Linked DNA regions of Homo sapiens: region 1 is linked to region 2. Evidence: fine-mapped expression QTL. A gene starts in region 2. The other region holds a variant in brackets. All regions are shown on one strand. Distances are between the middles of the regions.

What was found. PIP is the estimated chance that this variant, and not a neighbour inherited with it, causes the effect. A credible set is the group of variants that fine-mapping cannot tell apart.
Region 1: its variant is the best candidate, but not a certain one, in a credible set for the expression of THEM4 in whole blood (INTERVAL, PIP 0.82).

The regions. Positions count from the first base shown.
Region 1 is chr1:151,875,576-151,883,912 of GRCh38, forward strand. It overlaps THEM4 (thioesterase superfamily member 4), which reads right to left. Exons shown (of 6, transcript NM_053055.5): 5 at 1,426-1,550. Among named protein-coding and RNA genes, the nearest start is that of THEM5, 26 kb to the left of the region's middle. The variant GT/G (reference allele first, on the strand shown) is at 4,249.
Region 2 is chr1:151,905,026-151,913,362 of GRCh38, forward strand. It overlaps THEM4 (thioesterase superfamily member 4), which reads right to left and starts at 4,486. Exons shown (of 6, transcript NM_053055.5): 1 at 4,335-4,486. The coding sequence starts at 4,433. RefSeq lists enhancers at 1,232-1,771, 4,763-4,882, 4,871-5,458 and a silencer at 4,213-4,522.

The DNA.
Region 1 (8,337 bases), 29 kb before region 2:
CAGTAAGAAAATGAGAACAAATGGAAAAAAAGCTGAACAAACAAAAATTTCACAGAATGGGAAAAAATATGGTCAATAAACATATGAAGAGACACTCAACCACACAGGTAATCAGAGAAATGCAAATCAAGATCACACCGAGAAGTCATTTTATAGTCATTTGACTGGCAAAAATCATGAAGTCTGACTTCACTAATTGCTAGAGAAGATGGGAATCTAAAGAATCTCATATATTGCTGGTGGGAGTTTAATTTGGTACAGGCTTAGAAAACAATTTTGCATTCCTCTGTAAAGCTGAATACTCACAATACTCTACCACCCAGAAATTCTGTTCCTAAGTATATGCCAAGCTCTTGCCCATGCACACCACCAGGAGACATGAACAAGAATGTTTATAGCAGCCCCATTTGTAATAGTCAGAGGCCTGTCACTGGAAGAGAGACATTCATTGTGGGACAGTCACATATGGAGTATTACACAGTGGTACAAACAAGTGAACACAGCCAACAACATGGATGAACCTCAGTACTCCAGGGAAGTAACAGGTCATGTGTGTGACTTTCCTGAGACAGTCTACACACACATAAATATAGACATATTTTTCTTATTTATGGTATCACAATATTTCACCATTTTTTAATGGCACACACATACAATATAGTTCATAGGTGAGCTGTAGTTCTTTAACCAGTCTCCTATTGATGGATAGCTATGTTTGCTACGTTTTGCCATTTTTCTTGCTATTGCAAATAATGTTGCATGAGTGACACAATCACTGGAACCCGATAGCAATCTAACACATTATAATTTTGCAGTTATTATACCTGTGAGATAAAGTCCTGGAGGTGGGTCAAAGGGCATATCACTTTGTAAATTTTTTTTTTTTTTTTGAGACAGGGTCTGGCTCTGTCACCCAGGCTGGAGTGCAGAGGTGCGATCTCAGCTCACTGCAACCTCTGTCTCCTGGGTTCAAGGGAGCCTCCCATCTCAGCCTCCCAAGTAGCTGGGACTACAGGCGCACACTACCATGCCCCGCTAATTTTTTGTATTTTTTGTAGAGATGGGGTCTTGCCATGTTGCCAAGGCTGGTCTCGAACTCCTGGGCTCAAGTGATCCTCCCACCTTAGCCTACCAAAGTGCGGGGACTACAGGCATGAGCTTATGCATTGGGCTGTAATTTTGATAGCTGTTGGCAACTTGCCCTTTACTAGCAATGTATAAGAATATCTTTAACTTGTTCTTTGTATGACAGGGAATTAAGAATTTTTTGGCATGTATGGGTTATAATACCAGGGCAAAAAACCAAACCAAACCAAAACACCCCCCTGACCCCCACAAAACCCAAATCAACCAACCAACCAACCAACCAAAACTCCCAACCCAACCCAACTAAACCCCAAGAAAGAGATAAGACCAGCTTCTTACTTGTCGCCTCTGAGTATAGGGTCTTCTCATCAACACTCTGAACATTACAGGAAACAAAAAATTTCCTTCCTTCAACTTTATCAAGTTGGCTATTTATCATAACAACAGAACAAAGAGGGATAGGTCTGCAGAATAAAATGAAAAAGGAAAAAAATCAGTTTTTATCTGACTTATATAACATTAAAAGATGATCAAGTACATGACAAGGGATAGAAATTTATGACACCTGACAACAATGAGCACTGACTGCCTTAGACAATACATTCCTCAAGGACTCTGACACCAACAGCCTCTCAAGCTCCCCCTCTCCCAAGCACCACTGCTCTCAGGTGGCTCCTGGGCTACAGTCCCTGGATGTCTCTCTGGGCTTGTTTCAAAGGGATCATCAGGAATTCCAGCTCTGTGATGGCAGAGACTATCCCATCTGGAGATCCACTGCAAAGTCCTAAGGGAGCTGAAATGCTTTAAAGAAGTGAAAATAGGGCCAACAGATGGTCCCAGGCAGCTTCTCTCATTTCTTCTGTCATAATCAACATTTCTCATTCAATTCTGAGTAATGGTCACTAGAAAGACACCTAATAACAACAAATTGCTGATAACAGCTTACTGCTCTAAGTCAGTACTGTCCAATAGAACTTTCTGTGATGATACAAATGTTCCATATCTGAGCTGTCCAACCTGGTAGCCACATGTGCCTAATGAGCACTTGAAATGTGGCTAGCATAACTGAGAAGTTGAGTCCTTAAATTTATTTAATTTGAATTAATTTATACTTAACTTTAAATAGCTACATGTGACTAGTGGCTACAGACGTTTCTGGGAATCCTGGAGAAACATATCACAATGAAAGGATATCTCTTTAAAAGTGAAATTTCAGTTGGTTGAAACAGAAGGTAGAGCACGGAAACGTGTTTCGTGCTCCTATGGTACTACCAAGCAGATGATGGAACTACCCCAGGTAGAAAGGAAGTTATCACTGTGATGATCTCTCTGCCCAGTTTTCCTTTCAATGAACTTTTAATACTTCCACTCCCATTAGCTTTTCCTTTGCTCTTTTGTTGAGTCAATTCAACATTTACTAAGACCCAGGGGACATTAGGTGTTCTCGCCTGCCCAGCAACTCCCTTTTCTACTAACATGACTCTCTTCATTTATCCATCCCCTACCCTCCCTTCATTCTCTTCATATCTCTCTCTTTGATATACTCATGTACCCCTTTTGTCAGGGAACCACCTCTCCCTCATTCTTAGCCCATGTAGGTTGACTGGCATTGAATAATGATCCCTCCACTCCACACACACATAGTGACCAGTTGTGGGGGTGGGCACAGGCTGAAATAGTCAATCCTGGAACTTGTGCTGTAGCCCTTGGGGCTGGGTTCTTTTTCTCTGAGGCGCTAGGCTTACAAGACATAAGCCTGGCTGGCCTGGCTGGTGGCCATTGTGCCACTACACTGGGAAAGGCTACGTAAGGATGAAGCAGATCTAGAAGAAAATGTGGCTGAGATTCCTAATGACATCACTGAATATCTGCACTCAGCCACACCTGACTTCTCAACCATACAAGCCAATATATTCCCTTTTTTGCTTAAGCTAGTGAGAGTTAAGAGTTGCCCTTGTAACAGAAAGTCCTAGATTAGTAAAGAGACTAACAGAAAATGTTTCAGAAAATACAAAATAATGCAACAACTATACAGTGTAATTTTCTAAATGTAACTAATATTTAGGCACAGATCAGTTTGGTTGGCACAGGAAACTGGCTTTAGCTTGTTTTCCTTCGTTTAGCTAGAACACTTAATTAGATTTGTATTAGAGGCAGAAAAGTGATAACAAAGATAAAAGCAGCATTTAAAAATAAAAAAATTTGTTTTATTATATTTGTATATGTCTATACACACACACACACACACACACACACACACACACACACTGGAAAGGCATAACAAAGCCAAAAGATAACTCTTTGAAAAGACTAATAATTTCTGGCAAGACAGATCAAGACAATGAGAGAGAGCATACATAAATACTATTGGGGCCAAAAAGGATATAGATTTAGCTGAAATTTTTTAAAAATTGAGAATATTGTGAATATTATGAATAACTTTATGTCAATACATTTGAAAATGCAGATGAAATAGAAAAAAATTTCAAAAATTTATTAAAACTAAGAAAATGATTAGAAAGCCTGAATAGTTGAATAAAGAAGACACTGAGGCACTAAGCGGAAGGAGGAGTCTCACTCTGAAACGAGACTGGGTCTCTCAATCACTTCATGGGGTTACCCTCACTGACCAGGATAACCACATGAGACTATTAGGTAAACCAAAAAAGCCTATAGGTTTAAAGTAGTGAAATGTAGGAGTTACACTAGCTAATGTTACTCTAATTTACTATAGATTTTTTTTAAAAAGTTCTTTTTTTTTTTTTAACCTCAAATTCAATGTGGCCAGAACATTGGCTTGTAAGGTTCTGGTTCTGTAAAATCTATTAAGACTTAATTTATAAGCCAATACATGATCAATTTTTGCAAATGTGTGCTGGGAAAAAGAAAGTGTGCTGTTTTCTAATTATTGGATGCAGAGTTCTATGTTTGTCTAATAAACCATACTTGTTATCTTGTGATGTTTAAATTCTCCATTTTCTTTCTTTCTTTTCTTTTCTTTTTTTTTTTTTTTGAGATGGAGTCTTGTTCTGTCACCCAGGTTGGAGTGCAGTGGCGCGATCTTGGTTCACTGCAACCTCCGCCTCCTGGGTTCAAGCGATTCTCCTGCCTCGGCCTCCCAAGTAGCTGGGATTACAGGCACATGCCACCATGCCCAGCTAA[GT/G]TTTTGTATTTTTAGTAGAGATGGGGTTTCACCATGTTAGCCAGGATGGTCTCAATCTCCTGACCTCATGATCCACCCACCTTGGCCTCCCAAGGTGCTGAGATTACAGGCTTGAGCCACCGTGCCTGGCCTAAATCCTCCATTTTCTAATTGTTTTTTCTTTTTTTTGGAGACAGGGTCTCAGTATGTTGCTCAGGCTGCAGTTCAGTGGCTATTCACAGGAGTTATCATAGTGCATTGCAGCCTTGAACCCCTGGACTAAAGCAATCCTCCTGCCTCAGCCTCCCAAATAGCTGGGACTATAGATGTGCACCACCTCACTTGGCTCTGATTTTTTTTTTTTGTCTGCTTGACCTATCAATAATTGAGAACAGGCTGGGTGCTGTGTCACACCTGTAATCCTAGCACTTTGGGAGTCCGAGGTGGGCGGATCACGAGGTCAGGAATTCGAGAGCAGCCTGGTCAGCATGGTGAAACCCTGTCTCTACTAAAAATAGAAAAAAATTAGCCAGGCATGGTGGTGGGTGCCTGTAGTCCCAGCTACTTGGGAGGCTGAGACAGGAGAATTGCTTGAATCCAGCAGGCGGAGGTTGCCATAAGCTGAGCTCGCGCCACTGCACTCCAGCCTGGGTGACAGAGCGAGACTCTGTCTTGAAAAAAAAAAATTGAGAACAATGTGTTGGAATCTCCCACTATATAAAGGTGGGCTAGTCAACTTCTCCCTATGATTATATCAATTTAATTTATACTCTTTATTAGACGCATATTGATTTAGTTATTATTACCTACTATTGAACTGAATCTTTTATTACTATGAAGTAGCCTTCTCTATCCCCAATATTACTTTTTTGACAGTTCATTATTTTTTCTGATCCCAGTTTTCTTCTGGTTAACTTTTGTGTAGCATATTTTCTCTTCCTTTTAAACTTTTTGGTGTCATTTCAAAAATATGTCTCATATAGTTTCTAGTTTTTTACTTTTAAAAATTCAATATTATAATCTGTCTTTGAACTGATGGTTTGGTCTATTTATAGAGAGTCATTACTGATTTATTTAGACTTATTTCTATCATCTTATTTTGGCTTATTATTTGACTCGCTTTTTCTAACCCTCTTTTTTTCCTTGCCTTTTTAAAAATTGAGTTTTACTACTTGTTTGATCTTGTATTGTTTTAGATATTAGTTATACACTCATTTTCTCTTATTTTAATCATTCTCTCCACTGAAAAATATGAGGATGTATCAACATTAACTCTGTTCATCTCCTCCCAAACTACATGCTATTGTTATCCAGTATTTTAGCTGTCCTTTTGTTAATCACTATAATTTATTTATTGTAAATTTTTATTTTTATTATTTTTAGAGATGGGTTCTCAGTCTGTCCCCCAGGCTGGAGTGCAGTGGCGCAATCATAGCTTACTGCAACCTTGAACTCTTGGGCTCTAGCGATCTTCTTGCATCAACCTCCCAAGTAGCTAGGACCACAGGCATGAGCCACTGCAACACACCAATCCTCAGAATTTAGACATCAATATTACTTATAGACTCTATTTAGATTTTAGTTATCTACATGTTTACCAATTAATTTGCTCATGATTCCTCCTTTCATCCTCCCACCTGTTGGGATTGCTTTCCTTCTTTCTAAAGTCCACCATTTAGGAGCTCCCTGGGTGTTGTCCTGCTGTTCCATAAATTCTCTCCATTTGTTTGAATGACAGCACCTTCATTTTGCGCTCATTTTTGAACTTTAGCTTTGCTGAGAGCATGATTTTAGATCGACATTTTCTTTTGGCAGATGTTTTATTGTCTTCTGGCTTCTACTGTTGCTATTGAGAGGTTTACTGCCAGTGTAATGGTGCCCTCTTGCTTCTAAAAAGCAAGACTGCTTTGTAATGGCTGCTCTATCTTAGCTCTGCTTTTAAGATCTCTTTGTCTTAAGTATTCTCCAATTTCTCTATAATGTCTCTAGATATACTTTTAAAACCTAGCTTGATATAGATTGCTTTCTATATTGTCAATTCATGATTTTCTTTAGCTCTTGAATATGCTGACCCATTATTTCCTTAAATACTGGATCTCTTCAATTCTCTTTATTCTATTTTTCTAGGACTCTAATTAGAGCATGTTAGATCTTTTTATTTGTCCACTATAGCTTATGCTCTCTATATTTCCCATTTCCTTTTTTCTCTGTGCTGGATTCAGGGTAATTTTTTTTTTCTCTCTCTCTCTGCTAAACATAGATCTGAAAATAATAATTAAAAAGCTTCATTTAGGCCGGGCATGGTGGCTCACGCCTGTAATCCCAGCACTTTGGGAGGCCGAGGCGGATGGATCATGAGGCCAGGAGTTCAAGACCAGCATGACCAACATGGCAAAAACCCATGTTTACTAAAAATACAGAAATTAGCCGGGCATGGTGGCATGTGCCTGTAATGTCAGCGACTCAGGAGGCTGAGGCAGGAGAATCGCTTGAACGCAGGAGGCGGAGGTTGGAATGAGCCAAGATTGCACCACTGACTCCAGCCTGGGTGACAGAGAGACTCCATCTCAAAAAAAAAAAAAAAAAAGCTTCATTTAACATATTAAGCTGCTAGCTCTGAATACATTAACTGTGATCCTCAAAATATCTCTTTAAGAAAAGTATTATTGTCTTTGGTTAATGGATGAGGAAACTGAGGCCCAGAGAGGTTAGGTAATTTGCTAAAGCTGTATGGCTATTTGGTGGCACACATGGGATTCAAATCCCCAACAGTCTGATTCAAAGTTCTACTTCCCATTTTGCATTTGAGCTTGTTTTATCTGCCAAATGACTTAGTTGAGGTGGGCATGTTGATGTATTTATGGGATATATCTCAACACCGCACTAGAACAATGGAGCTGGTGACTAATTTAGTGTTTTTAGTAATACAACCACCACCACCATCACCGAGCATATGGATCTGACAAATGAACTCTTGATTAAATTTCAATGGAAGGGGAAAATAACTTGTAGGGAGAAATGATTTGAAGGTTTACTGGGCTGTGAGATTATAAAAATCATGAGAGTTTGCATTAGTTTATTTTCATGCTACTATAAAGAACTACCTGAGACTGGGTAATTTATAAAGAAAAGAGGTTTAATTGACTCACAGTTCTGCATGGCTGGGGAGGCTTCAAGAGACTTACAATCACGGCAAAGGTGAAGGGAAAGGGGAAGGGGAAGCAAGGCACGTCTTACATGGTGGCAGGAGAGAGAGAGAGAGAGAGTGCAAGGGGGGATCTGTCAAATGCTTTTATTTATTTATTTATTTATTTATTTATTTATTTATTTTCGAGATGGAGTCTTGCTCTGTTGCCCAGGCTGGAGTGCACTGGCGCAATCTCGGCTCACTGCAACTCTCAGGTTCAAGCAATTCTCCTGCCTCAGCCTCCTGAGTAGCTGGGATTATAGGCATACACCACCATGCCCAGCTAATTTTTTTTTGCATTTTCAGTAGAGATGGGGTTTCACCATGTTGGTCAGGCTGGCCTTGAACTCCTGATCTCAGGTGATCCACTCACCTTGGCCTCCCAAAATGCTGGGATTACAGGCGTGAGCCACGGTGCCCAGCCTGCCAAACACTTTTAAACCATCAGATTTCATAAGAACTCACTATCACTAGAACAGCATGGGGGAAACTGCCCCCATGATCCAGTCACCTCTCACCAGGTCCCTCCCTTGACACATGGGGATTACAATTCTAGATGAGATTTGGGTGGCGACACAAAGCCAAACCATATCAGAATTATAAAATGTCTAACTAAATTGTTAGTGAAAATAAAGGATTTAATTGTGCATTTTTTTTTTTTTGAGATGGAGTCTCACTCTGTTGCCCAGGCTGGAGTGCAGTGGCATGATCTCGGCTCATTGCAACCTCCCAGGTTCAAGCGATTCTCCTGCCTCAGCCTCCCAAGTAGCCTGGCCTTAACTGTGCATTTTAAAGGAACAAGCACTGGGCACGATGGCTCACACCTGTAATCTCAGCACTTTGGGAGGCTGAGGTGGGTGGATCACCTGAGGTCAGGAGTTTGAGACCAGCCTGGCCAACATGGTGAAACCTCGTCTCTACT
Region 2 (8,337 bases):
ATAAATGAAGTAGAAATGTTAGGGACAACGATTATATTTTGTTGTCCTGAACAGAGGAAAGGTCTTGCTTGAGCTTTGGTTACACATTTATAAAGTGGTAAGACAGCGAAGTAAAAAGAGCTCCCCAGAGAACCTCCCACCAGCCTTTGACTGGGAGAACAGGGTGGAGCCACAGAAGTTCATGCCATTGGCAGACGCAAGGAGCCTGGCCTCTTGAGTTCCTGTGTGGCAGGGTAGGAGCAGCTCCCTCTTCCTCTGCTGAGGTTTTTCTCTTTTTCCTTTTTTGCCCAATAAATTCCATTATTCTCACCCTTCTGTGTCCACAAGACTGATCTTTCCTGATTGTGTGACAAGAACTTAGATGAATTGAGAAGAAAGTCCTTTTTTTTTTTGAGACAGAGTCTCACTCTCACCCTAACTGTGTTTGGCGCTCAAATATGGGGCCTGAGGAAGTGAGGCAGGAAATTGAAGAAAGCAAAATAAAATTTAAAAAGTGAAAAACAAGCTTTCTATATGAGGCTGACTCATCCCAAAGGCAGTAACAGGCAAAGCCCTGACCCGGGTGTAGTCTTGATAACATTCTCAAAGAAACCAGGGCTCAAAGGATGTGCTCTGGAGACTCTTCCAGCACTCCCTCAACAAAAGGATAAGAAAAAGTAAAGTTCCCCCTTGAATCCCATCCCCTTCCGTGTGATTGTACCTTGCTCTGCAAGTTTTATGAGTTTATAGATTCCTGTTTTCTGTAACTAGTAACTTCAAGTATTCTGTTTTATCTAAACAGCACAGTGAAGGTTATAAGACATGCCTGAGTAGGCCTAGGCTGCGGCCGTCTGGGCACCATAGTGAAGATTATGAGATAAGCACTTGCAAGGCTCTTTTGAGCAAGCCTAGATAACAGCCACCTGGGCTGCATAAGCAAGGGTCATAGTGAGAGGTGACAGTGTGCTGGAAGTCCTCACAGCCCTCGCTCCCTCTCGGCGCCTCCTCTGCCTGGGCTCCCACTTTGGCGGCACTTCAGGAGCCCTTCAGCCCACTGCTGCACTGTGGGAGCGCCTTTCTGGGCTGGCCAAGGCCAGAGCCGGCTCCCTCAGCTTGCAGGAAGGTGTGGAGGGAGAGGCGCGAGCAGGAACCAGGGCTGCGCGGGGTGCTTGTGGACCAGCTGGAGTTCCAGGTGGGTGTGGGCTTGGCGGGCCCTGCACTCGGAGCAGCCAGCCGGCCCTGCCGGCCCCACGCAATGAGGGGCTTAGCACCCGGGCCAGTGGCTGCAGAGGGTGTACTGGGTCCCCCAGCAGTGCCGGCCCACTGGCGCTGCGCTCGATTTCTCACTGGGCCTTACCTGCCTTCTGGCGGGGCAGGGCTCGGGACCTGCAGCCTGCCATGCCTGAGCCTCCCACGCCCTCCGTGGGCTCCTGCACGGCCCGAGCCTCCCTGATGAGTGCTGCCCCCTGCTCCACGGCGCCCAGTCCCATCGAGCACCCAAGGGCTGAGGAGTGTGGGCACACAGCGTGGGACTGGCAGGCAGTTCCACCTGCAGCCCCAGTGCGAGATCCACTGGGTGAAGCCAGCTGGGCTCCTGAGTCTAGTGGGAACTTGGAGAACCTTTATGTCTAGCTAAAGGACTGTAAATACACCAATCGGCACTCTGTATCTAGCTCAAGGTTTATAAACACACCAATCAGCACCCTATGTCTAGCTCAGGGGTTGTGAATGCACCAATCGACACTCTGTATCTAGCTACTCTGGTGGGGACTGGGAGAACCTTTGTGTTGACACTCTGTATCTAGCTAATCTGGTGTGGACGTGGAGAACCTTTGTGTCTAGCTCAGGGATTGTAAATGCACCAATCAGGGCCCTGTCAAAACAGACCACTTGGCTCTACCAATCAGCAGGATGTGGGTGGGGCCAGATAAGAGAATAAAAGCAGGCTGCCCAAGCCAGCAGTGGCAACCCGCTCGGGTCCCCTTCCACACTGTGGAAGCTTTGTTCTTTCGCTCTTTGCAATAAATCTTGCTGCTGCTCACTCTTTGGGTCCACACTGCCTTTATGAGCTGTAACACTCACCGCGAAGGTCTGCAGCTTCACTCCTGAAGCCAACGAGACCACAAACCCACCGGGAGGAACGAACAACTCCAGACGTGCTGCCTTAAGAGCTATAACACTCACCACGAAGGTCCGCAATTTCACTCTTGAGCCAGCAAGACCATGAACCCACCAGAAGGAAGAAACTCTGAACACATCCGAACATCAGAAGGAACAAACGCCGGACATGCCGCCTTTAAGAACTATAACACTCACCACGAGGGTCCGTGGCTTCTTTCTTGAAGTCAGTGAGACCAAGAACCCATCAATTCCGACACAGTATGTAATCCTGAATTATGCACCTGTCACAATTTGATGAATTAATTGCCTTTGTGCTGCCTCTGTATCCTTGCTTTCACGCCACTATGCTTCACGCCACTGTAAGCTTGTTTCAAGCTAGCCCACCCCCTTTTAAAAGTGTGTATTAAAGTCAAGTGCTGTCTTTGTTCTGGGCCCAGCTTTTGGATGTTAGTCCGCTGGGTCTGAGTGCACTCAATAAAGTTCTCCTGTCTCACCCCATGGCCTCTCCAGTCCTCCTTCATTCCTGCAACAGAAGGATGAGTGAAATGGGGACTCAAAACCTCTCACTTTCATTTCTGAGCCTTTTGGTCTTATGGCATTCCTCTTCTTTTTGGGGGGACAGCAACGGCACCTATTTTTCTTTTTACGATACTGGAGGTGGTCCACACCCACCCCAATGGTCACCAGTGCACTCACAAGACAGTTGGGTGGGGTAGCTCCCTGGCCCCACTTCTTTACTGGCTGGGGTGCATGGTGGTGTCTGCAGCATGTGTGTGTGGTGTCCAGTAGCCACACAGGGCATAAATGAGCCACAGCCACTGCCCAGGCTCCAAGGCGCCGGCATGGCTGGCTGGCGTTCCCTACCAGGTGCCTGCAGTCTCCCCCTCCCCATTCCAGGGAGTCTAGCTCTGTCCCACAGCAATTAAGCTCCTCTCTCTGGTGGAGGAACCATTTGCATAGGAATAAGAGGTTCTTCCCCCAGGCATCCTTATCTCCTCTCCAACCCATCAGCAGTATACTTTTAAAGGAGGTTTTTCTTTTCCTTTTGGAAGACGTTTTGCTCTTTTGGGAATGATGAGGATTACCGTTTATATTTTCTGTAAAGTTTTGTGCGAAAGGATTTGTGAGGTAAGTCGTAAGCTGTAGCCAATCTGTGTGTTTTGCATGTCTTTCTGTATGCTCCACAGCAAACTTCGCTGCAGGCCTCCATCTTGTTTTACGTCCTTGGGGGCGTGGCCTGTAACCCCATTGCATAGCTTCGTTTAGCCCGGCATGGCCCAGATTCATCCTGGCTTAGGGAATGAGTCCTTTCTGGTTTGGTATCTGTATGCCCTTTCGCTATTTGTCGATTCCCCTGCCCTCCACCAACCACCTTGGATTTTCCTTTCTCTGAGCCTTTAAGTAAAGTTTGAAAGCCAGAAATATTGGCCGCTTGGTGGAGCTAAAGTTAGATAATAAGGGTGTTAAAAGAATTTTCTTAAGGAGTGCTCAGCTTAATTAAAAGTAGATATCTAAGTTGTAATTATATTTATAAGGCCTTTATGTTTTCCTTTTCTTGGACCTTATTTTGCTGGAAAAAGTGTTTCTTTGCGGTCGACTGAGTTATTTTTCTCCATTTTGCCTTGCCACTTTTAATGCCTGCATAAGAGGGGCGATCTCTGTTTTCCTCATGGAACCCCAGGAATTAAAAGCAGATAGATCCCTCTCCCTGTGATGAAAGATCTTATGGCAACTGGGTTTTCTTCTGCCTGTCTGTGTAGTTATATATGTGTTGTGTGTGATGTCTATAAAAAGATCTCTAATTAATTGACCTAAAGGAAGATAAGCGTTTGGATCAAATATTTTTTTAAAGGGAAGATAAAAGCTGTGGTATCTTTTAGTTCACGTCACTTTAATCTTTGAAAAATAAAAACAGCCTCAAATATTATTGGTAAAATACAGATGTTGTCAAAATATAAATAGACAGACTAAATTATGCAGTTCAGGTAGCGCCCTGCCGACCCTGTCTCTTAAAAAACAAAAAAACGGGGTCACCTTTCCATCCCTTTTCTAACGGTTTGAATCTCAGGACTGTATTCCTAGGCCCCTGTTGCTTATGCTGCCCTGTGGTGCCCAGGTGAGCTTTTATTCTGAGATTGGCTGGTTGGGGTATGGATAACAATCGAAGGCTCTGTTACCGCAGGCGTGTTTCTGAGTCCTGCTCCCGCCCCATGCCCGAGGGTGCCCAGACTCACCAGCTCGGGTCGCGGCTCGCTTCCCGGCAGGCGCCGGCCTACTGGCGGCAGGCACAGAGCCCCCAGCGTGCGGAGGCGCGCGGCGCAGCTCCTCAGCATGGCTCCGGGCCGCGGGGCCGCGCTTGCTCTAGCCCTGGACGGCGCACTCTACCTCCGCCACAAGAGCGCGCGTGCGAGTTAACCCCTGGGGTGGACGCAGGGCGGGGCTTGGGGAGGAGGCGGTGCGCACTACTGGCGGCTGGCTGGCCGGGGTGTGAGGCCGGCGGGGTCCGGGTAGGGCATCGCTGTTGAGTCTATCTTCTGGTTCCGGCCTTTTCTTTCCGAAGACCTCCCGCTGCGGCCAACAGCCGGGCCACTTCCGGGGCTTCTCAAAGGCAAGAGGAGCGCGGCCGGAGCGGATCCCGGTTATCGCCTTGGGCCCCTCAGCCCCTCAGCCCCGGAACCCGCGCGCCGACTGGAGGCTTTGCGGTCATCCTTCCCACATGACCCAGGGCGTACGCAGTGCTCCGTGTCCCCAAGTAGTTATCCCTCCCCCGGAAGACTGAAGTCCCTGGGGCGGGTAGGAGCGCACGCTAGGAGTAGTATGAATAAAGTGTTTTCTTGGAGGTCATGGGCAAGTCTCTGGACAGGGTTGATAGTGCTGATTTATAGAGGGCAGTCTGGGCACAAAGAGCATTTATACGATCGAAAAGCTGCTTTCCCTGCCAACAGCCCCATACCCTCCCCAGGAGCGCGCTTACGCCTTAAAAGACTCTTTTGTTATGTAAACTGACAGTTAAATTAAACGAAGGTAATGGATACTAAAGGCGTAACAGGTATTGTAACTATTTTACTGTTATCGATGCTTTTGAGGTTACTTACCTCGCTTGTATTCGTATGGTGGGAATACTAGGCGCATACCTTCTGAGCTTCGAATTCAGTAACCTCACTGGGACCTTGAAATCGGACTGGGTTGGAGTATTCCCATTACTCAGATAATGCAAATCCGGGCCATCATACCCCTTTATTTTTAAATGCTTACCAGTATGCCATAGCCCTAGTCCATCCTAAGGTGAAGACTCTAATGGGTTTTTTTTGAGACAGAGTCTCGCAGAGATACTGCTATTGCACTTCAGCCTGGGCAACATACTGATGCCCCATCTCAAAAAAGCAATAAATTAAAAAGAAAACTCGAATGACCTGAATGCATTAGATATTTTGCCTTGATTCCTTTCCCATGAACAACTCCAGCAGTTTGTCAGTAGGTAAGAACACCTAGATACATTTTAAGCCTACACTATTAACTGGGGGAAGGTGTAACATTCTGAGAGAAAGGGAATTGGGGAGAGAAGGCAATGCAGTTAGGAGGGGCCCCTTGGAATCCTAGAGCTACTGAACCGAAGATCAGGCATAAAGGATGGTTGTTGAGATTCTGTAATTCTAAGAGGTTGTATTCTGATATCTCCTAAGCACCCCCCCCAACCTCCCACATTCCCTTTATCTCAGTTGTCTTCCTTTTTAATATATTAATAGTATTGCAGTTTCCTGGTGGCAGGGATGGGGTCAGATTGCCTTATTAATTGTAACAACGTGCACGTAGTGCTTGAATACTTACTTAGCAGCAAGAATCCAAAGTATCTTTGGTGTCTGTTGTCTTCCCATGTTGTGCGTGCAGATGGAGGCACGAGCATAACGTAAATCTCTAAAATTGAGATGACTACTGTTAATGAATAGAAAAGTTTATTCAGGTAACTTAAAATTGCATCTATTTACAATTTACAGTGTAGTCAAATCAATCAATACCTATAGACTTCAACCCTGCTAAGATTGTCTATATGATTAATGTACCAATAGCTCACCTAACAGCTTCCTTTTGTTTTTTTGAGATGGAGTCTCACTCTGTTGCCCAGGCTGGAAGTGCAGTGGCATGATCTTGGCTCACTGCAACCTCTGCCTCCAGGGTTCAAGCGATTCTCCCTGCCTCAACCTCCCGAGTAGGTGGGATTACAGGCGCGTGCCACCACATCTGGCTAATTTTTATATTTTTGGTAGAGACGGGGTTTCACCCTGTTGGCCAGGCTGGTCTTGAACTCCTGACCTCAAGTGATCTGCCTGCCTCCCAAAGTGCTGGGATTACCAGCATGAGCCACTGCACTCGGCACCTATCAGCTTCTTAAAAGACCTTAGACTTAGGGCAATTAGAGGTCAGTTACACTGAGTTTAAACTTCATTAAATTTTAACTCTAAATTTTTCAAGTAGCGGCAGTGCATTTAGTTAAGTCATCCACACTCTTGCATGGCTTACTCTGGGATATTCGTGTTGACAGCACATATAAAATGTCTGGTCAGATTTGGAAGAGGAAGGGCAGGTTACAGTCTAGAAATAGGATTGATAGGCTATGGAAGTGAAGGAGTTTGAAGCTTGTATGGTTTAGGCAAGGAACAAATGTTCAATCTTGATAGAACTAGGCTTCGAATAAGCCAATGGTATGAAACTTAATAGTCTTCTCACCATTCTTTAATTTTGTAGACAGCTTTATTGAGGTGTAGTTGCCATAGGATGGGCACCGTGGCTCATACCTGTAATTCCAGCACTTTGGGAGGCTGAGGTGGGTGGATCACCTGAGGTCAGGAGTTTGAGACCAGCCAGGCCAACATGGTGAAACCCCGTCTCTGCTAAAAATACAAAAATTAAGGCCGGGCGCAGTGGCTCACTCCTATAATCCCAGCACTTTGTGAGGCTGCAGCGGGCAGATCACGAGGTCAGAAGATTGAGACCGTCCTGGCTAACACGGTGAAACCCTGTCTCTACTAAAAATACCAAAAATTAACCGGGCGTGGTGGCGGGCGCCTGTAGTCCCAGCTACTCGGGAGTCTGAGGCAGGAGAATGGCGTGAACGTGGGAGGCGGAGCTTGCAGTGAGCCAAGATCGCGCCACTGCACTCCAGCCTGGGCGACAGAGTAAGACTGAGTCTCAAAAAAAAAAAAAAAAAAAAAGTTAGCCAGGTGTGGTGGCGCATGCCTGTAATCCCAGCTACTTGAGAGGCTGAGGCAGGAGAATCGCTTGAACCTGTCAGGTGGAGGTTGCAGAGAGCCGAGATCGCGCCATTGTACTCCAGCCTGGGCAACAAGAACGAAACTCCATCTCAAAAAAAAAAAAAAAAAAAAAGCCAGAGGCAGTGGCTCATGCCTGTAATCCCAACACTTTAGGAGGCTGTGGCAGGCGGATCACAAGGTCAGGAGTTCGAGACCAGCCTGACCAACATGATGAAACCCCGTCTTTACTAAAAATACAAAAATTAGCTGGGCATGGTGGCGTGCACCTGTAATCCCGGCTACTCGGGAGGCTGAGGCAGGAGAATTGCTTGAACCCGGGAGGCGGAAGTTGCAGTGAGCCAGGATTGCACCACTGCACTCCAGCCTGGGTGACAGAATGAGACTCCGTCTCAAAAAAAAAAAAAAAAAAAAAAAAGAGATAGTTGACATAAACTGAACATATTTAAAGTATACAATTGGATGTTTTCATACAAGTTTACACTCATGCAAACATCACCATAATCAAGATAATGAGCCACAAAATATTACCCACAAATTTGCTCATGCCCTTTTGTAAATCCTCCCTTCTATCGTACAGTACTTTCTGTCACTGTAGATTAATTTCCATTTTCTAGAGTTTTATATAAATGGAATTATATAGTATGTACTTTTTGTGGTCTGGATTTTTTTAATTCACTATAACTATTTTGAGATTCATCCATGTTTTGCTTATGTCGAGAATTTATTTTTTAAAATTGCTGAGTAGTATTCCATTGTATGGATGTACCACAATTTTTCTATTCACCCATGGATGACCATTTGGCTTATTTCCAGTTTTTGTGAATTACAAATATAGCTGCTGTGAGTACAAGTCTTTGTATGGATGTATGCCTTCATTTCTCTTGGGTAAATATCTAAGAGTGGAATGGTTGGATCATGTGGTAGATGTATGTTTAACTGTTTAAGAAACTGCCAAACTTTTCCAAAG